2 separate regions of the Homo sapiens genome follow, and region 1 is linked to region 2. The links come from fine-mapping of genetic effects on gene expression. A gene starts in region 2. The other region holds a variant in brackets. All regions are shown on one strand. Distances are between the middles of the regions.

Region 1 (10,346 bases), 140 kb before region 2:
CCACCACGCCTGACCTAAATGCGGGGCTAAATCTCTTTTAGTGTAGCCCCGGGTGCACCTCAATCTTTATCCAAACCCTGGAGAGGAGGCCCTTTCTGACATGAAGATACCATGATTCTAGCCAATCTGGTCGTCTTTTAAGAAAAAAGTCTCTGCTGCTGACCACGGTGGCACATGCCTATGATCCCAGCTACTCAAGAGGCTGAAGTGGGAGAATGGCTTGAGCTCAGGCCAAGTTCAAGGCCAGCCTCGGCAACAAGGCAAGATCCTGTCTCTTAGGTTTCAAAACAACATTTAGAATTAAAAATGTCGGCCAGGCATGGTGGCTCACGCCTGTAATCCAAGCAGTCTGGGAGGCCGAGGCAGGTGGATTGCCTGAGCTCAGGAGTTCGAGACCAACCTGGGCAACACGGTGAAACCCCATCTCTAATAAAATACAAAAAATTAGCTGGGCGTGGTGGTGTATTCCTGTAATCTCAGCTGCTCAGGAGGCTGAGGCAGGAGAATCACTTGAACCTGGGAAGCAGAGGTTGCAGTGAGCCAAGATTGCACCACTGCACTCCAGCCTGGGCAACAGTGCAAGACTCCATCTCAAATACTAATAATAATAATAATAAATGTCCATGACTGTTAATGGCTTAGGGGGATGGTGGAGTATCAGAATAGAAACTGTATCATAGCAGCAGCGGAGTGTGTAAAGAAAGGGAAATGGAGACAAATGAAACAACTTTTTTTTTTTTTTTTAAATATGAGGTCTCACTCTGTTGCCCAGCTGGAGTGCAGTGGCTATTCACAGGCACTCACTGCAGTCTCAAAACTCCTAGGCTCAAGTAACCCCCCTGACTCAGCCTCTCCAAGTAGCTGGGACTACAGGTGGGCCCTAGCTCTAGAATAACAACCCTTGAAGAGACATCTAACTAACTGGGTTGAGGAAGGAGACAGGACAGGTCTTAAGCTATGCCATTCAATATGGTAACCACTACAATAAGATACAATGTTAAATTCCATTCCTCAGTCGCACTAGCCACAGTTCAAGGCTTCAGCAGCGACACGTGGCTAGTGGCTACCATAGTGGACAGTGCAAATATAAGAACATGGCCATTGTCACAGAACGTTCTATTGGAGATGCAAGGTGTCAAGGAAGGCACTTGGAGATAGATGAGGATATTTAAGTGCCTAGGAAGAAAAGCAATACAGAGTGAGAAATCTGGCTACAACAAAGGATGCAGATGCCTTTGAACGGCAGGAGGGAAGGACAGAGCACACCACGGAGGCCCTGCAGAGGGCAGAGGAGCAGCCCTGAGCGCCCAGGGATGGTGACGCAGGGAGAGATGCAGGGAGGTCCAAAACAGAGCAGAGAACTTGAGAAATAGCCATCATGGACGATGGAATCCTGATAAAAACAAAAAACTTGGGTCACAACACAGGCCTCTGGCCAGGCACGGTGGCTCATGCCTGTAATCCAGCACTTTGGGAAGCCAAGGTGGGTGAATCACTTGAGGTCAGGAGTTCAAGACCAGCCTGGCCAACACAGTGAAACCTTGTCTCTATTAAAAATACAAAAAATTAGTTGGGCATGGTGATGCACACCTGTAATCCCAGCTACTCAGGAGGCTGAGGCAGGAGAATCACCTGAATTGAGGAGGCAAAGGTTGTAGTGAGCCAAGATCACGCAACTGCACTCCAGTCTGGACAACAGAGCGAAGACTCTGTCTCAAAAAAAAAAAAAAAAAAAAAAAGGGCCGGGCTGGGCGTAGTGGCTCAAGCTTGTAATCCCAGCACTTTGGGAGGCCAAGGCACGTGAAATCACCTGAGGTCAGGGGTTCAAGACCAGCCTGGCCAACATGGTGAAACCCCATCTCTACTAAAAATACAAAATTAGCTGGGTGTGGTGGTGCACACCTATAATCCCAGCTACTCGGGAGGCTGAGGCAGGAGAATCACTTGAACCCAGGAGGCAGAGGTTGCAGTGAGCCGAGATCATGCCACTGCACTCCAGCCTGGGCGACAGAGCAAAGACTCTGTCTCAAAAAAGTAGAATAAAAAAAGAACACAGGTCTCTGGGGACAAAAAGTATTAATAAAAGAAAAACATATTGGGAAGACGATCCGGCAGAAGAGAATATCTGCTTCTGAGGTTAGTGACCCAGATTTGCGTGTGTGATGAGAGGAGTTTGTGTTCTTGTGTAACATTCTCCAGTTAAGCACTGAGGCTCAGGTGCAGGTAAATCAAAAGCGGAAAGCTGGGGTTCATCCAAGGTGAGGTTTTGCCAAATGGACATGCTAGGAAAACAGGAAGGGCCTGGGAGACTGGGTTGTATTAGCAACAGTACTCCATGGAAATTAAGCTGGGTAAGGAGGTAGGAAGGAGGGAGGTATAGAAACAAGACAGTTAGTAGAATTGGGTGAGGAAAAAAAGGCCACATCTGCACGCTGACGTTTCCTAGAGATCAGTGCCTTATTAGCAGAGCCACGCACAAGTGCCATTACTCAGCCATTTTTGAGTTACAACAATTTTATAGGTGTCCACCTAAGTATACCTGACATATGGTTGCAAGCATGAGTCTGGATTGCAAAGCTCAATTGGTTGCATATGGTTGCAAAGCTCAGTCCTTGTTAAAAAGAGAATCAAGAAATATGAGAGATGCTAAAGACATCTCAGTATCAAACTAAGCCTGTTCGAAGGGGAAGTGAAGAGGGAGTTGCTTTCTCAGTAGGTGCTTCCGTCATATTTAATGCCAAGTTCGTATCCTTCCTAAAGTGAGCTCACGTTACTCCCTCTGACTGTGCCCCCAAATCCCACCCACCCACCTTTCAAAGCATGAGTCTGGAGAGATCTGAACTGAAGTCTTGGCTCTCATAATTACTCATTGAGTTACCTGGGCATCTGAGTTAATGTCTCTGGACCTCAACTTGCTCATCTGTATAATGGAAATACTAACTATGCTCTTACAGACATTGGGGAAAAACATGATAAGGTGTTCATGCTCTTCAGTATCACCAATAGCTGCTCTTCTGACTTCCTTTGAAACTCCACGAAGATAGGCATTTATCTGCCTTATTCAGAAAAACTGCCCCTTCCTCCCCCTGCTCGCCCCCCTCTTCCCCCCACCATTTACTGGGGCTTCTTGCCTCCTCTCCCTTCCACTCCCTGGGCCAGTGTGCCTCAGGTCAGGAGTCAGCAAACTATGGCCAGCTCAATGCCTGTTTTTGCAATTCAAGTTTCATTGGCACAAGGCACACGTTTGTTTACATATTATCTATGTCTACTTTCACACTACAACGGCAGGGTGAGCAGCTATGACAGGAACCATGCGGCCTGCAAAACCTAAAATACTTACTAAATGGCCCTCTATGGAAAAAGTTTCTTGACCCTGGTCTAGGTAATACTCCTCCAGCTCAGAATGGAATACGATGCCTCTCCCAACTACCTTCCTGTATGCCACCCTCCTGATGCCAACAGACTCCTGCCAGATTCATCCTACCACGGCATCATTCATCTTCTCAGATGCCATTTCAATCAAGCCACTTTGAGGCTCCAAAACCCTAACAGCACCCCTCTGTCTGAAACGGTGTTTCCCTAACTTGGACCTTCCTCACACCACTTGTGCCATTTCGACACATCCATAGTCCTCTTACATATTGCTTAGTTCATGTTTTTATTTTAAACTTATGTAACTTAGGTAAATAACTAAACTTTTATTGTTAACCAACAAAAAACACAAAACCAATAAAATCTGCTGTTAAATCAAGGGCAACTCCAAAAATGAATGTAATGAAAACCTTAAATTAAAAGTTCTAGGGTGGGGAGCATGCGGCTAAAATCTAGAGTCTGCTCAGTCTTTGTTAAAAAGAGAATCAGGAAATATGAGAGATGCTAAAGACATCTTAGCACTAAACTGAGCCTGTTACAAGGGGAAGTGAAGAGGGAGTTGCTTTTTCAATAGGTGGTTCAGTCATATTTAATGCCAAGTTCATATCCTCCCTCCTAAAGCAAGCTCATATTACTCCCTCTGACTGTGCCCCCAAATCCCATCCAACTTTCAAGGCCTAGCCCCTTAGGGAAACCGTTCCCAGCCCCTAACAATGGACATCACTTCTTCCTCCATGCACTCAATATGCAGAAGTGAAATGAAATGTTTGCTTTTCAGCTCAAGAGAATCGTCAGTGGCTCACGCCTGTAATCCCAGCACTTCCGGAGGCAGAGGCGGGAGGATCACTTGAGGTCAAGAGATCAAGACCAACCTGGCCAACATGGCAAAACCCCGTTTCTACAATTTTTTTTTTTTTTTTTTTTGAGAGAGAGTCTCGCTCTGTCTTCCAGGCTGGAGCGCAGTGGCACGATCTCGACTCACTGCAACCTCCACCTCCTGGGTTCAAGCGATTCTCCTGCCTCAGCCTCCCAAGTAGCTGGGATTACAGGCGCATGTCACCACGCCCAGCTAATTTTTGTACTTTTAGTAGAGACAGGGTTTCACCATGTTGGTCAGGCTGGTCTCAAACTCCTGACCTTGTGATCCGCCCACCTCAGCCTCCCAAAGTGCTGGGATTACAGGCATGAGCCACTGCGCCCGGCCTACCAAAATTTTTTTAAAAAATTAGCCAGGCATGGTGGTGCGTCCCTGTAGTCCCAGCTACTTGGGAGGCTGAGGCAGGAGAATCACTTGAGCCTGGGAGGCGGAGGTTGCAGTGAGCTGAGATCACACTACTGCACTCCAGCCTGGGCGACAGGGCAAGACTGTCT[C/CA]AAAAAAAAAAAAAAATCATCATCAGGCAGAAAGGTCCTGGAGCTGTGGTGCCAGGCAAAAACCTTGAATGAAGTAAAACTGTCTTCCACCAGGAAGACACCTTCTCTGAACCCTTCTGGAATGACCCAAAACTGCTTTAAGAAAGTGCAGGAAAAAGATTCTTTGGGCTAAGGAAGGAAGACAGCTCAAACCCCACAGAAGAAAAAACCTAGATGTCAAGTCTCAGAAATTTCCCCAAACCTGCCTGCCAGGTTATTCTCCAAAAGGAAAGGATTTAACAGAAAGATCATCCACTTAAGCACTGCCTTCAATTCTCAAAGGCTTGAGCGCCTTCATCCACCATATGCAGGTGTCAGAACCTCAGAATAAAATCTTACACAGTGTCATTTACCGTTCTCATTTCCCTGAGAGAGAGAGAAAAAAAAAACTTCCCAATCCAAATGCACTTCTTCTACCCTACCCCAGGTCAGCAACAGAACCCTCTGTCCAAATGGAGTTTTATGTGGATCCCCAGTAAATACAATAGGTAATACCGATCAGCTTGAAGAGGTACCTGAAAGTTAACATGCTCAGCTACCCCCTCACCCCCACTGACCCACCCCAGGCACCCCTAAGGATCCATAATCGTTTGGAAACCATTGGAATAAACCCTTCAAATTCTCCCTGACAAAATGGCTCCCCATCTGCCCATCTGAAATGTGAAAGCACCGTTCGCCCACCAGGGGGCAACATACCAGAGCCTTGGTTGGAGCCTAAGAGAATGGAGGAGGGCGTCTCTCTGGAGCCAGAAAGGTCAAGGGTCTAGAAATACAAAAAGAAAAAGATGGACTCAAGGCACTGAGGCTACTGTCGCCCCCACAGGGAAATCCAGGGAGTCATGGGGGTGCTCATCGCTGCCCCCAAAGCATCTCAGTGTCCTCTGCCTGGCACGGTCAGGTGGGAGTGATGGGCACAGGGCGGCCAGGTGGCCAAACCCCAGGTACCATCTCCCACACTGAACAGACTGGAACGCAGCACCAGAGTGGCCCCTCACTGTACCCTAGAACATTCACTGTTTCCTAAACTCCACTCACTAACAGAACCCCCTCCAGATTTTTGCCATATCCAAGGAGAAAGTACATTACTTCAAAATTCTGTCAGTCCGCTTTTAATTCATGCTAGCCTCTGACTAGGTAATACTATCAGTTAAACCAACATGTTTTAACTGACAGTCTAACGATTTATCTTTTTCCTAATATGCAATGAAATAGATATACAGTGACTAAAAATGTAAAAAACTATATACTCATGAAAATAGTCTTTGCATACCATCAATGTCACATACATCACACCCTGGCAAACAAACAAGGAGGTGAAACCTTCGTGGCCCAATAGGGCAGCCACTAGCCACATGTGGCTACTGAAATCTCAATTAATTAAAATTAAATAAAACTGTAAAATCAGGTCCTCGGTCACACTAGCTGCATTTCAAGTGCTCAAAAGCTGCATGTAGCTAGCAGCTACCATTCTGGACGGGAAGTACAGAACATTTCCATCATCGCAGAAAGTTCTCCTGGGCAACACTATTCTACACTTTGAGGGTCCCCAGCAGAGAGTACTGGGGAGCAGCTGCCAGGTCCCACACACGCCGGCCCAGGCTCCATGTTCCCACACATCCACTGGAAATGCCGGCACACTGTTAGGACAAGCCTCCCACAACACGGAACTTTCAGGGCGGCAGACAGGGGGTCCTAAGTCCACTTGGCACAAAGGGTAGATGTCACTAGCCAAAGGCATGGGGGGATCCTCACCGAGCCACTCTCCTTGCTTTTCTCAGCTGACGTCTCCTTCTCTTTGGAGGCGCTGGCCGTTTCTGAAGGTGCTGATTGTGTGCTCGAGGAGCTCCCCTGGGAGGACTTATTTAGTGTTTCTGTGTTCACCTCAGCATCCGCTTCCTGCTGAGGAGCAGTAGCTGGGGACAAAGGAGAGAGAGAGACGCCACATATACACAGAGTACGATGATTTTGAAACATGCATGGAGCCCCGCCCTGCACCCAGTGGCACCCAAGGCTCAGCCCTACCCAGGGCATAAAAGTGGAGGCTCAAGGGGGCCAGATTGCCAGAGTTTTCCAGAAGCTGGAATTCCAAACTTTAGAATTCCAAATTTTAACATAAACATGCTGAGATGGAGTCTCGCTCTGTCAGCCAGGCTGGAGTGCAATGGCACGATCTCAGCTCACTGCAACCTCTGTCTCCTGGGTTCAAGTGATTCTCTTGTCTCAGCCCACCAAGTAGCTGGGACTCAGGTGCACACCACCATGTCCGACTAATTTTTTGTATTTTTAGTAGAGACAGGGTTTCACCATGTTGGTCAAGCTGGTATTGAACTCCTGACCTTAGGTGATCCACCCACCTCGGCCTCCCAAAGTGCTAGGATTACAGGCTTGAGCCACCGTGCCTAGCCAACATGTTGATTTTTAATGGTTAGCAATTCAAGTTTTATTAAATCATTCTGGAGATGAAAGTATATTCCTGGAACAAATAAAGCCCATCAACAAGAGCCAACCTGTAACTGCTGATTTAGTTACTCTATTTAGTCATTTCTAGGTGGAGACCTATATTTTTAGCCCCAGAGACTTTCTTCCTTCTAAGGTGGGACAGGAAAACCACGTGAAAGGCGACATGCTATCAGAGGCCCAGAGAATCTGGAGATGGCAGAAACTTGGACACATAGAAAAACAGGGCGTTTGGGGCCGGGTGCGGCGGCTCATGCCTGTAATCCCAGCACTTTGGGAGGCTGAGGCGGGCAGATCACGAGGTCAGGAGATCAAGACCATACTGGCTAACACAGTAAAACCCTGTCTCTACTAAAAAACACAAAAAATTAGCCAGGCGTGGTGGCGGGCACCTGTAGTCCCAGCTACTAGGGAGGCTGAGGAAGGAGAATGGCATGAGCCCGGGAGGCGGAGCTTGCAGTGAGCTGAGATCGCGCCGTTGCACTCCAGCCTGGGAGAAAGAGCGAGACTCCGTCTCAACGAAAAAAAAAAGGAAAAGAAAAACGCGTCTGGGAGGAATTTAGGAAGAACAGATGTAATTATGTCACAAAAAAAGGAAAGCCGAAGGACATTTTGGCCATCTTGGCAAAACAGCAAAAGGCTCATCAGACACATTCCAGAACGGAGGGAAAACACAAAGAGACTTTACTCCAGTAAGAGACCAAAAGTCTCTACAAAGAAGACATCTCCCTAAAGACTAAAGAACAGGGCAAGGTATTCTCCAATATTGCCTTTTAAAAAATAATAAAATAACAGATTTGTCTAGAGCAAGAGCTGGCAAGCTAGTGCTGCCTGTTTTATTGGCAGACAGCCACATCCATCCATTTATATATCATCTATGTCCATCCATTTACATATCATCTAAGACTGCTTCTGCACTGCAACAGCAGAGTTAAGTAGTAGCAACAGAAACCACATGGTGTACAAAGCCTAAAATATTCACTCTCGCCCTTCACAGAAAAAGTTTACCAACCCCTGGTCAAGCTTCTCACACTTGAGTCATTTACATACCACCTTTGCAAATTTTGCCAATCCGCAGACATACTACTTTATTGTATTATTTATGGGACACTTGAAATTCTTTAAAATGGAAGTGTTTAATTCCAACCATACAAAGCTAGTATCATTTGCCACAAATAAAAGCTAATGGTAAAAAATAACTTATAGGCTGGGCGTGGTGGCTCACACCTGTAATCCCAGTACTTTGGGAGGCTGAGGCCGGCAGATCACTTGAGGTCAGGAGTTCAAGACCAGCCTGGCCAACATGGTGAAACCCTGTCTCTACTAATAATACAAAAATTAGCTGCGCATGGTGATGTGTGCCTGTAATACCAGCCACTTGGGAGGCTGAGGCAGGAGAATCAGTGGAAGCCAGGAGGCAGGGTTGCAGTGAGCCGAGATCGTGTCACTGCACTCCAGCCTGGGGGACAAGAGCAAAACTCTGTCTCAAAATAATAATAATAATAATTCATAAAATATTATTGATGCCAGGCGCTGTGGCTCACGCCTGTAATCCCAGCACTTTGGGAGGCCAAGGTAGGTGGATCACCTGAGGTCAGGAGTTAAAGACCAGCCTGACCAACATGGAGAAACCCCATCTCTACTAAAAATACTAAAAATTAGCCGGGCATAGTGGCATATTTCTGTAATCCCAGCTACTCGGGAGGCTGAGGCAGGAGAATCGCTTGAACCCGGAAGGCAGAGGTTGCACTAAGCCGAGATCACGCCACTGCACTCCAGCCTGGGCAACAAGAGCGAAACTCTGTCTCAAAAAAAAAAAAAAAAGGATAAATTCTAACTAGATAGTGCTTCCTGCTGGAAGCTCTAGGCCTGGGGACTGCTTGTTCTATGTTGGAAAGGGTGATTACAAATATTACAGCAGTGTCAAAGATAGGTTAGTACCAAACTAACACTTTTTACTTAACAAAGAAATTGGGAATCCATATTATCTAAAGCCACAAGTCCATTACTGCCAAAAAAAACACAGTGTCTCAACTTCAGTACTACTGACACTTTAGGCCTGAGAAGAGATCAAGGGTTCTGCAAAGATCAAAGGTTCAAAATGCCCATGGCTCAAGTTTTAGCTATGTGCCTGCACACTGCTCACCTGTGTGTAAGACACAATTGTTTTTGAGTGAAAGTGTCCAGAAGCCAGGCAAGCTCCCTTGACAATTAGCCCTGAGACCCCTGAAGTCCACAGGGGAGACCAATGCCAAGCCACTGCAGCCCAGGACGGGAGGCAGCCCCACAGGGCATTACCTGACTGGGTGCAGGACTTCATGTGCTCAGGCCAGTGGGCTTGCTGGCAGGGGTAGTCACAGTAGCTGGTGTTCCAACAGCAGTAAAAGATGGCCTCCTTCTTGCAGTTGGCGCACCACTGCTTCTTCTTGGTCTCATCCACCGCCTGCTGCTTCTCCAACTCCAGCTGCTTCTTCACCTCGGCGATGAGCCGGTCCCGCTCCTGCTCCAGGCTCTGCCGCATCTCCGCCATGGTCAGCTCTGGTGGAGGAGGGGAAGAACACCGCTCATCACCTGACCCCAGCCTGGGGTGTGGGGTTATTCCTGCCCCCAGATTCAGGCAGACGTGGATGCAAGACCTGGCTGGGAGAAGCCCTGGCTGTGTGCCCATGGGCAATAACCTAGCCCGAGTCTTCATCTGTAAATAGGGCATTCATCATGGTGACCAGATGGTGCTGCCTGTTGAGAGTGGACATGAGGTGCCCAGCATGGACATAACTGCAGCCCCAGAGGATTTTCCACACCAGACTACATTCTGGGAATTCCTCAAAGTAACCCTTGAAACAACTGCCACCAAAACTCACTTTCTATCCTATTATTCATTAACATAAGCCTTTTCCCCCCTATCAATCAAATACCTATACAGCACCCACTACATGAAGGCACTGTTCTAAGAACTTTATAAATATTAACTCATATAACCCTCATCCTAATAATCCTACGGGGTAAGTACTACTATTCTACCCCTTTCGCAGATGAGGAAACCGAGGCAAACAGCTAGCTGGGCCTAGACCTCAGGCGTGCTTTCTTGTAGGTGTCTCCTGTGGCAC
Region 2 (10,346 bases):
TCCCCCTTCTCTTCTCAGTCTATTAGAAACCAGCTTTGCATCCATACCAAAAAGGCGCTAGGTAAAATGAAAGTGCTTCAAGGACAGCAGGCATCTGAAAAGCCAAGCTAAAGGGCTGCACCTCAGTCTACGGCAAAGGTAAAATAAAAAGGCTGTTTATAAGCCTGCAAACAGCCACCAAATACCCAGCCCTCTGAAGCAGCCAGTCCTAAGACAGTTAACATCAAGGAAAGACAATCCGAGTCTGCAGAGGAGAAACACAAGGAAAACATTCCCTTATCCAATGCACAGGATACTCACAAATTAGATTTCTGACCACCCCCAACAGAGCCTGAGAATTAACAATGGGTTTTGCAAAACCCGCTTTCAGAGGCCGAACTAACAGCCTGAGTGGATAACGTCATTTACTGTTACAGGTCTGAGCATTGGCCTCAGAACTCCTCTGGTGCTGGGAGTGAGGAGTTTCAAGGTGACTGCTTTTTAGCTCCAGGGGAGAAAGGAGGGCACAGTGCCCAAGGCCATGCCAGGGCAAGGACGGGCCACTGGCCCCCGCCGGCCGGTAGGTAAGGTAATCGGGATGGGGGGGACAGGCTGGCAGCACACTGGCTGCAGAGCTGGCATGGCCACTGCCTGTTTGTTTGTCTGCAAGGAGAGTGGGAAGTAGCGGGGAGGGTGACCATAACCTTAGCAACCTGAAGCCAAGGGTGAACCCTTGCTCAGATCTTGCATTTTAAGAGTAACCAAAGGGTTCTGAAACATATTCCCTTTTTAAATCTCTGCTGTGCAGTAGCGAAGGCCCCTTTGAATGTATCTTTCTTTCCAGAGTCAACCAGAGGCAAAGCCAGATTGAGGGTTCCCAGGCTGACAAATGTCTGCTGCCTCTGCCACAGGAGAGAGAAGGGGAAAGAGGGCAAAAGAAACAAAGACATCACGCGTTGCAAGTGGCTGGACTTTTAAAAACCTACCTTTGCCTCCAGGGTTTTCTAGGTTACTGTCACCCCACTTCCTAAAAAGTGTCTCCCCCCTCATCCTATTTAAGACCTGATGCAGTCTCCCCACTGGTTCTCCCAGGGAAAGAAAAGGGGAAATGTTTTGTTGAAAATAAAAGGGATGACAAGAAAGAAAGGAAAAAAAGCTATTGTTTTCATCCCTAATTTATAATCCAAGAGGCCCCCAATTGTTTCTTTCTGACTCAAATCTTTGAGCTGTTAATTATAAAAGTAACTGGACTTGGCGCCAACGGGCTAACTATGATCAGGCTCAGCAATTAGAAAAACTCTGTAGAAAGTTTACTGAGTGATTATATATAATTAATTCCTAGTTACAGACTGAACACTGACCATTTTCTGGAGCTAATAAAAGCAGTTACTCCCCCTCCCCCACGTGAATGCCACTTAATTTCCCAAAGCAGAAAGTGAATCCATCCTGGAGGGTCTTGAAGGAAAAAAAAGGAGAGGAATCAAAAGCTTCAGTGTGTCTGTGTTTGCTCCTTGCAGCTGTGTATCCTCTTTGGGGACTGAGGAGGCAGAAGGAAAAAGGAAAACAGCCCAACATTCTGTTCCTCCTTCTGCAATTTACAAACGTGGCAGAGAGAACATTCTACCTTGATGAGAAAAAGAAGGGGGGTTGGGGGGAAGCAGGGAAGGGAGATGACCTAGGAATGGAAGGTAGGAGACGCTTCTGCTTGGCAGATCTGCTTTTCCTAAAAGGAACAAAGATGGTAGAAATTTCCAGAAGGCCCGTTCTTAGTTCGGCCACTGCAATTGTCAATCTTTAACCTTTCCTCCAAGTCTATTGGTTTAAAAGCTAGAGTAGAAGAACCCCATTGGGCTGCTCTGGGAGCCAGTACTGCCGTCCCTACCTAGTCCTGCTGCAATGCAGACATTTATTTTTTTCCCCCTTTCCTGAAACTGGAAAATAATGCTACTTTGAAAGCAATTAACTTTTTACAGACTCATGCTTGGTAGGGGTCACAGTACCAGAGGAAAAGTGGCTAGCTTGGTCCAGGGTTGGGAACTTGCTGGGGGCTGTACATTTGAAAACAGATCTTGGCTCTCCAAACCTGTGGGAGCCATTTTAATGCAAGCTTTTAGAGGACAAATGCCTTGCCCTTAAGTTCCCTTCCAGCCCAACAAACACAGTATTATGCAAACGTTGAAGGCACCAAACCAGGAGTCTTATGATTAGATATTGCTTCTAGGGAGGCCACAAGAACCTCGATATGTAATTTCCATTTACAGCAAGGAGATAAGAACAAAGAAAATAGCTGAGTGTCTGAACTTACTTGTTTGGGGCAGTGGCACTGTTCAGTTTTAAGTATATAACATCATTAACTGCCTGCAGTTTTACTCTAAGAAGCTAAGCTGGCCTGCCTTGCACAGACTTTTCTCAACTTAGAATGTGGTACGTTTCTGCTGATTAAATGAGCCTTTTTCCAATTCGGTGTCAGAAAGTGGGCTACTGGACACTCATTTGAAAGAAAAAAGATTACTGACTCCATAAAGTTGACATAACACAGCAATTGAATATATTTCCTGCATTTACGGTCATGTCGGATTGGTCTCCAAGCTGAAAATTTATGTACTGAACTTCTAGGGAAATTCTGAAGGTACTGCTAAACAAGACTCTACTTTTCCCACTTAACTTCTAGCTGCAGCCTTAAGTGGTCAAGGGAAATGTAAAAAGTGAGAAATCTTATGTGGGGCCAGCATGCATACAGATGTGTGGAGGAGACCTGAAAAAAGGCCAAAATGTGTTGGTCAGTGAGTCCTGAATCAAACCCAGTCTGGTGGTAGATGAGATTTTGCACTATACATAAGTCCTAAAACATGAGCACACTGACACCACCCCCCCAACACACACATACCACCACCACCACCAGCTTCTACACCACCAATGTTTTTAGGGCTCTGCACCTCTAAGAACAAGCAGTTTCATGACATTTCACAAGCACATCACCTACTCACAGTTTGAATATCCAAACAAACCCCATTAAAGGTCTAGAGTCAAGTCACAATGAACTGAACATTTCTCCCCTGACTCAGGGTAAACAGGAAGTATAATCTTCAATCCTAGCTGCAGGTTATCAGGAAAAACAGTGGATTCAAACAGTCACCTAAAATCAAGACACTCTTTAAAAAGCCCTTATTTTGTTCCTGCTAATGAAGCCCCCAACTCCTGTAGCCAAGACCCACTATTACAAACAGACCCCAAATGTTCGCAAAACTCTTCAAACATGGTCACAGAGGAAATGGATTGCTTTACTTACCCAACAAATGTTCAAGCAACCGTCTCATTTTTCCACAGTTAGGAAGAGAGAACAGGCTGGCAGATTTGGGACTTGATCAAAAAGGAAATTTTTTTAAACAGTTACATGGTATTATTAAAAACACACACAACAACAACAACACAACCCAACAACTGAATATGGAATGCTGTCATGAGCCACAGACATGATTTTATTTCCTCTACACTCCATGACACAGGAGAAGAGAGGAGGATACAATGTATAAAAGGGACAGGAAAATGAAAACAAGGATAAAAGGTAACATTAGTTCCTTGAAAATCATGCAAGAGTAGAAAGCTAAGGGATTCAGAATCCTTGCAGATTTTTTTTTTTTTTTTTTTTTGCAGGATGTTGTCCAAGATCTCTCCCCCCACCCCCCAGTCCCCATCCCTACTCCAAAAAACTTCCTCCAAAGCCTAGAAAACACTTTCAGAAACATTTGCTGGCTGTAGGCTGGCTTGCAGAACACTCTGTAGCAACCTAAGTCAGGAAAACAGGCTGAACAATGTAGTTTCAAGTGCAGAAGCTCTGTAGAATAAGAGAAGACCGTGTACAGACACCACCACCCACCTAGGCCCCAGGAGCTAGACTCTCCTTAGCACTGCTCTGCTGAGGGCACAATTCTTTTGCAAACACGCTCCTCTCTTGTCAAAACTTATCCAGCCTTCCCAGAACCTCTTTGGAGAGGCAAACTTGCCTGCTCTGCTGTCTGCCATGAGCTCTCCTTGGAGAGGAGCCTGTTTGCTTACCTTCCATTTTCTTCCCCCAGCAGGGCATGTGGCAAAAGAGAAGACAATAGTGCAGGGGTGGGAGGGGGGGAACTGCTCAGAGAGAGAGAGAGGGGAAGAGAGAGGGAAGAGGGAAAGAAAAAAAAAAAAAGAAGGAAAAAAAAAAGCTTCTTTTTTGGCATACCAGGATCTAGCTTCAAACTCTTCCAGAAACACCATGCCCTGGTGGAAGGAAAGGTGTGCCAGGCCCTTGCCAGTTTGCAAAATCAAGCTATGGCTAATGGCTACTGAGCCATGTGACCCAAGAAAGCAAAAAAATTCTCTCTAAACAGTTCCAAGTTAACATAAGTGCTCTGGGGGTGAGTGTGGCACGGCCAGCCACAGAGAAATCACACTGCTCGCCCACAATTCGGATGTCTCAGAGGGAGGGGGAAAAAAGATGGTTAAAAAGTCGAGCTTACCTCTGTGGATGCATTGTTAACACTGTGTAATGTCAATACTTATAAAACATGGAGGACAGGCTCCTAGTTCTCACAGAAAAAGGGTTTGGCACTTCGGCTGATGATCTGGCCGCCTAATAAAAGCTCATCCCCGATTGGCTGCCCCGGCAAATCGGAGTGTAAAGCCGCCCCGGATTGGCTGAAACACTTCCTGAGCGATTATCTTTGTGAGGCTCGGGTGAGCAAGAGCCATCCTGTGCATAGAAAAAGACAGGCTAAGCTAGGCCTTTTGCAGCAAGAAAAACTTGGGAAAGGGGCCCCCACACGCACTTCTCCTGCACCCTGGCTAGATTTCCCGGCACGGGCCAGCCAGGGCAGCCAGCCTGACCTGCTCCAGGAAAGCCTGAGGCCCGGAGGTCCCTGGGAAGGGAGTTTCTTGGAGTGGGCTGGAACGGCTCACCCTCACCTGCCCCCAGAGAAACGGCCCTTGTCCAGGGAGGAAGGCCAGCCTTTTTCTAGAACAGTCCAGCAGGGTGGCTCTCCAAGGGGAAGGGGAAGCTGGGGAGTGGGGAGTCCCGGGGAAACAGCCAAGGGGCCAGAAAAAGGGGCTTGAGGCAGGCCTCTGAGAAGCTGGGGGAAGCAGGCAGCCCGGGGGAGCCCCGAAAAATCAGCAGAGAGCAGCCCTGGCTTCTCAGAGGAGCGAGGAGTAGCTGCTGAGGGGAGGAGGGGAGCAGAGTGGTCAAGTTTGCATAGTCATTGTCCCCATGCCTCCTTGCAAGGCAGGCCAGGGAGCCGTGGGCCTCTCGCGCCCTGCTTAGCCAGTCCTGCAGGCAAAATCAACGTGGGTTCCTGTCGCCCTGCCACGATGCCAAGGGGGACCCCTCTCGGTCCTTACCCTAAGAAAAACCCAAAGCCCTCCTCGCAGGCCACATGCCTGGATCTACAAACTTCCCTTCCCTCCCGGCCCCTCCCCCGCGGCCGAGACCTGCTAAACCTGTCAGTTAAACACAAATCTGACTTCCGTATTAGCCTGCGATGCCTTCGGCTTCCTGCCTGTTAACCCTCTCTCGGACTCGGGGCCTGGCTGGGAAAAACTAGGCCTTGAGATCGCAGCGAAGGCCTGTGGAAAAATACCAGCTGCAGCTCTCCCGGCAGATGCAGAAAGAGAGAGAGAGAGCCGCTGTCTCTCAGCCTTTGCTTCCCAGGGAGGCGTGTACCTTGTGAATCCAGGGCACAGGCAGTGCCTCTCGGGCTGAGAAGCCATTTCAATCCAGAGGGAGACAGAAAGATGGCACGCTCAGCCCGGAAACAAGAGCCCCCATTATGCGTCAGGCCTACCCCCGTAGGTCAGCCCTTCCTGCCACAATCATCCCTGTATGTGTGTGCCTGGGGGAGTTGGGCCCTCCTCGGTGGGCAGACAAATCCCCTGGGCTTCCTAAGGATTCTTGCTTCCATTTATTTGCACAGAGAACGGCTTCTTTTCGTCCCCCAAGGCAGATGGAGCAGCGATTTCACACACAGCCCTCCATTTGGCAGCCCCCCCACCCCCCCATCTCTGGCACCGCTCCCCAGTAAAATATTAACTGGTTGTTCAGAGCTGCTTACAATTCTACCCACTTCAATTGCGTTAGGAGGTCTTTGCTGGTCTCCTCCCTAAAGCTGCCTTCGCAGTTGGTCTGTACCCAGAGATAGAAAAGGACCGTAAAATGTCCCCAGCTTTCTCGCTCTCTTTCCTTCTTCGGCATTTTAAATGACAAGGTGCTTAATTAACAGGATTTTTTAAAACAGCAACCTGGAACCACAGAAGCTAAATAAACACCATTCTTTAGAGGCTGGAGAAAGCGTCCAGAGTTAACGCAGCCATATGCCAGGAGGCATAACTCCGGAGCAATAAAGTCTCCCCTCTCCTCCTAAAATTAGGACTTGTGGGCTTTCTTGTCCCACACGGTTCCCACAAAGAAAACGAAGAGCTGATGGCTTGCTTTCCCTGCCCCCCCCCAACCCCCACATGGACAACAGATGCCCACTGCTTGTACATAAATTCTTCCTGGCCGGGAATCTCATATCAAACAGGCTCAGGAACGAGCTGGGAATCGAAACTCACTGTACGGCAGGGCAGGACCCAGGCTTTATAAAAACGGACAGGATGTTGCTGTTGTTACTGTTTTAGGCTGCTGAGGCCAAGCTGCAGGGAGGGACAGCTCCATGGCCACCCAACCTGACAAAGCTCCAGGGCTCAGGACAGCAGGCCTGGGCCTCACCAAAAGGGAGGGGCCTGCTCTTCCTGGAGGTAGAAAGCTGCATGGGGAGACTAAATGGGAGGAGGCGAGAGGTGGAGGCCACAGTGAAGCAGTGCGTGCTCACCCTCCTAGCTGTGTGGGCAGCGGCCCTCCACCGCCATCCCATATGGAATGCTGTTTGTTTCTGCGGGTGCTGCTTTGAGGGGAACAAACAGGACTGTGGGGTTGGTGGCAGATCTCCCATGCAGCTAAGTCCACGAACCAATGAGGAAATAAAATATGCCGCTGGTGTGCGTGGTGGATTTTAACCTGGGATTAAAGCTTGTTGCATAAGCAGCTACAGCATCCTCCCCGCCTCCCTCCCTCTCTCTGATCACTTGATCACTTGAAATGTTTTCTGGGGCAAAGAGCAGGAAGCTGCTGGCTTATTCTGGCAGCTCTGCTCTGTTTGAGGAATGCTGTTGGCATTCGGGTAGGTCTGAGGTTATCTGGAAAACAGCAATTCGGCTGGGGACAGACACAAAAGTATGGTGGCAGATGGAATCCTGGGAGGAACACAGATTGAAAAGAAAGCCTGGGGCAGGCCTACGAAGGGCTGGTCCTGGGCTTCATGGAATGTGGCTGATAAGCAGGAAATAAAACCAAATGTTGCAGGTCTCAATCTAGAAATCCATTCAGCAGCTCCTCTTAAAGCCCCACTGCAGTGAGTATCCCAGCAGTTACTTCTAAATTAGTGCTTTACATAGACTGATTCCTGAAGTAGGTGGCATTGTTAGAAACCTGGAACTAAGCCCAGAGAGGTGAAGTGAGCTGCCCAAGGTCACACAGCTGGGAAGTGCCAGAGATCAGATGTCCACCCCGTTAGCACTTCACATCCCTAAACTCTGTACCTTCTCCTGGCTCTAAAGAAAGAAGCAAAAGCAAAGCCGAACCAAGCACAGCAGAAACAATGAGGCTGAAACCTACGAACAGCAACTGCATAATCTGTGTTTTCTTTTAGGAGGTAGACCAGTTTTTTGCTTTTTTGTTTTTTGATACAGTGTCTCGCTCTGTCGCCCAGGCTTGAGTGCAGTGGCATCATCACAACTCAATGCTGCAACCTGAAGACCCACCCTTTTGAGGTGGGTTTTCAGTATTGAATGATGGCGCTGAAGGAAACTTTTAGATTAGACTCATTCAAATGCCCCTCATTACAGATTGAGGCCCAGAGGAAGCGACCCTCTCCCTCCCAACCTCCAGCAAGATGCAAGATGTCAAGGGGGAACACTTTGCCATCTCTAAAATTAGGCTTTTATATTCCCTGAAACCAGTGGTTCAACCATGGGGGGATTTGCCCTTCAGGGGGCATTTGGCAATGCTTGGAGACGTGTGGGTTGTCACAGTTAGGGAGGTTGTATTACCGGTATCCAGTGGGTAGAGGCCAAGGATGATGCAAAACATCCTATAAGTACACAAGACCAGCCCCGCCACAACAAGGAAGTATCTGATCCAAAATGTCCAAGGTTGGGAAACCCTGGCTTTAAGCCCTTTAAGGAAAGGGAAGAAAACAGTCCAATCATTCTGCCTCTGGCTAGAAAAGCCAGCACAGGCCTAAACAAGCAGGTTCTTTGGTGATATTAATAAGCAATGAGCTAATAAAAATAGATTAAAACGTGTCTCTCTTAATATTCCCAGGGTACAGAGAGGATTGGGGTACAGAATCAGGCTGTGGGGAGCCAGGCAGAGTGTCACAGTAACAACACTGGTCTCGAGGGAGAGGAAAGGCTGGCCCCAGCTCCCTTCCCCCAGCACCTTACGAGCTGAGGCCTGGCCTCCCTGAAATGGCTCGCCCGTTCCGCTGGCCTCCAGCCAGGCGAGCAGCAGCAGGAGCGGCCCCACAAGCTGCATCCCGAGATAGCCTGTTCGGCTGCCTACAAAAATAAGCACACTTGCAGTTATCGGCCTCCAGCTACAGCAGGCCTCTCTGACCGTTACGCGAAATGGACAGGATTGAGTCAGGGAAGTGTTTTAAATATCTTGTTTTGTTTTGTTCCTTTCTGGCCAATTAGAACCGAGGCCAACTTCGGGCACGGTGACAGAAGGGCTCACCTTCAGAGCCCGGAGCTGACTGTGTCATGTTACAGCCACAAAGAGGCAGATAGGAGCCTCCCTCCCTTGGAGAAGATGCCTACTAGGAGAGGGGTGTGGGGTTTTTTGGTTTTGTTTTGTTTTTTTACCTCTTTCTAGGAGGGACTGGCAGGATTAGGCAAACGGCGGGAGGGAAAACAAAAAGGGCTAGTGGAAAGGGCAGGGGGTGGATGGTCGCCCCTCATCAGGCAGATGGCCACAGCGCGGGTGGGGCGCCGAGCAAGGGATGCAGGAGCAGAAGGAAAATGAAAAGCAGGAAAACTCAGGCCCTACTCTTTTTTCTTCCTAGCAATTACTTTTATGGGCAGAAGACTATAGATTCGTTCGCTCTGTTTCTCCCTCCCACTGGACCGGTGGTTTTGCCCCCGCAAGGGGACATTTAGCAATGCCTAGGGACATTTTGGGTTGTCTCCATTTTGGGTTGTAAGATCTTTCAGGGAAGTGGGGAGTGCTACTGGCATCTAGTGCTGCTAAACATCCTACAACACATAGGACAAGACCCCCCAGCGGAGAATTAGCCAGCCTCAAATGTCAATAGTGCAGAGGCTGAGAAACTGTGCACCAGGCTGAGCACTTCACGAGGCAAGGAAGGACCTTGTCTGAATTCTTCACCATCATGCCCTCAAGAGTTGAACACAGCACTTGACATATATTAGAGCTCAGTAGAACACCATCTCCCATCCGGATGGTTGCAAGAATCTTACCTGAGCTCTCTGCTTCCGCCCTTGCAAACGCTTGTACACATGCACTCACACACACATACACACACTGTACCACCCAGGCTGCCAGTGATCCTTTTATTTTTTTTTCTCTCCCTTTTTTTTTTTTTTTTTTTGAGACAAAGTCTCACTCTGTCGCCCAGGCTAGAGTGCAGTGGCACAATCTCAGCTCACTGCAACCTCCGTATCCCAGGATCGTGCAATTCTCCTGCCTCAGCCTCCTGAGGAGCTGGGATTACAGGCACATGCCACCACACCCAGCTAATATTTTGTGTCTTTAGTAGAGACGGGGGTTTCACCATGTTGTCCAGGATGGTCTCGATCTCCTGACCTCGTGATCCGCCTGCCTTGGCCTCCCAAAGTGCTGGGATTACAGGCGTGAGCCACCATGCCCAGCCACTTATTTATTTTATTTTATTTTTTCTGAGACACAGTCTCACTCTGTCGCCCAGGCTGGAGTGCAGTGGCGCCATCTCAGCTCACTGCAACATCCGCCTCCTGGATTCAAGTGATTCTGCTGCCTCAGCCTCCCGAGTAGCTGGGATTACAGGTGCAAACCACCACGCCCGGCTAATTTTTTTTTTTTTTTTTGTATTTTTAGTAGAGACGGGGTTTCAAATTTCACCATGTTGGCCAGGCTGGTCAGGAACTCCTAAGCTCAAGCGATCCGCCTGCGTTGGCCTCCCAAAGTGTTGGGATTACAAGCGTGAACCACCGTTCCCGGCCAGCCAGTGATCCTTTCAAAACACAAGTCAGCTCCTGTCCTTCCTCTGCTCAAAATCCATCAATGACTCCTATTTCTCAGT

The links. PIP is the estimated chance that this variant, and not a neighbour inherited with it, causes the effect.
Region 1: its variant is the best candidate, but not a certain one, in a credible set for the expression of ZMYND8 in whole blood (INTERVAL, PIP 0.59).

What each region holds. Positions count from the first base shown.
Region 1 is chr20:47,214,780-47,225,125 of GRCh38, forward strand. ZMYND8 (zinc finger MYND-type containing 8) reads right to left here. Exons shown (of 23, transcript NM_001281775.3): 19 at 9,538-9,777; 20 at 6,535-6,695; 21 at 5,479-5,545. Among named protein-coding and RNA genes, the nearest start is that of MIR3616, 53 kb to the left of the region's middle. The variant C/CA (reference allele first, on the strand shown) is at 4,744.
Region 2 is chr20:47,352,182-47,362,527 of GRCh38, forward strand. ZMYND8 (zinc finger MYND-type containing 8) reads right to left here and starts at 4,518. Exons shown (of 23, transcript NM_001281775.3): 1 at 4,476-4,518. The coding sequence starts at 4,489. It overlaps LOC101927377 (a long non-coding RNA gene), which reads left to right and starts at 380. Exons shown (of 2, transcript NR_134501.1): 1 at 380-559; 2 at 824-2,452. RefSeq lists enhancers at 2,519-3,126, 2,967-3,046, 4,329-4,498, 4,342-4,949, 4,484-4,778 and 8 more and cis regulatory regions at 6,625-6,838, 8,341-8,996.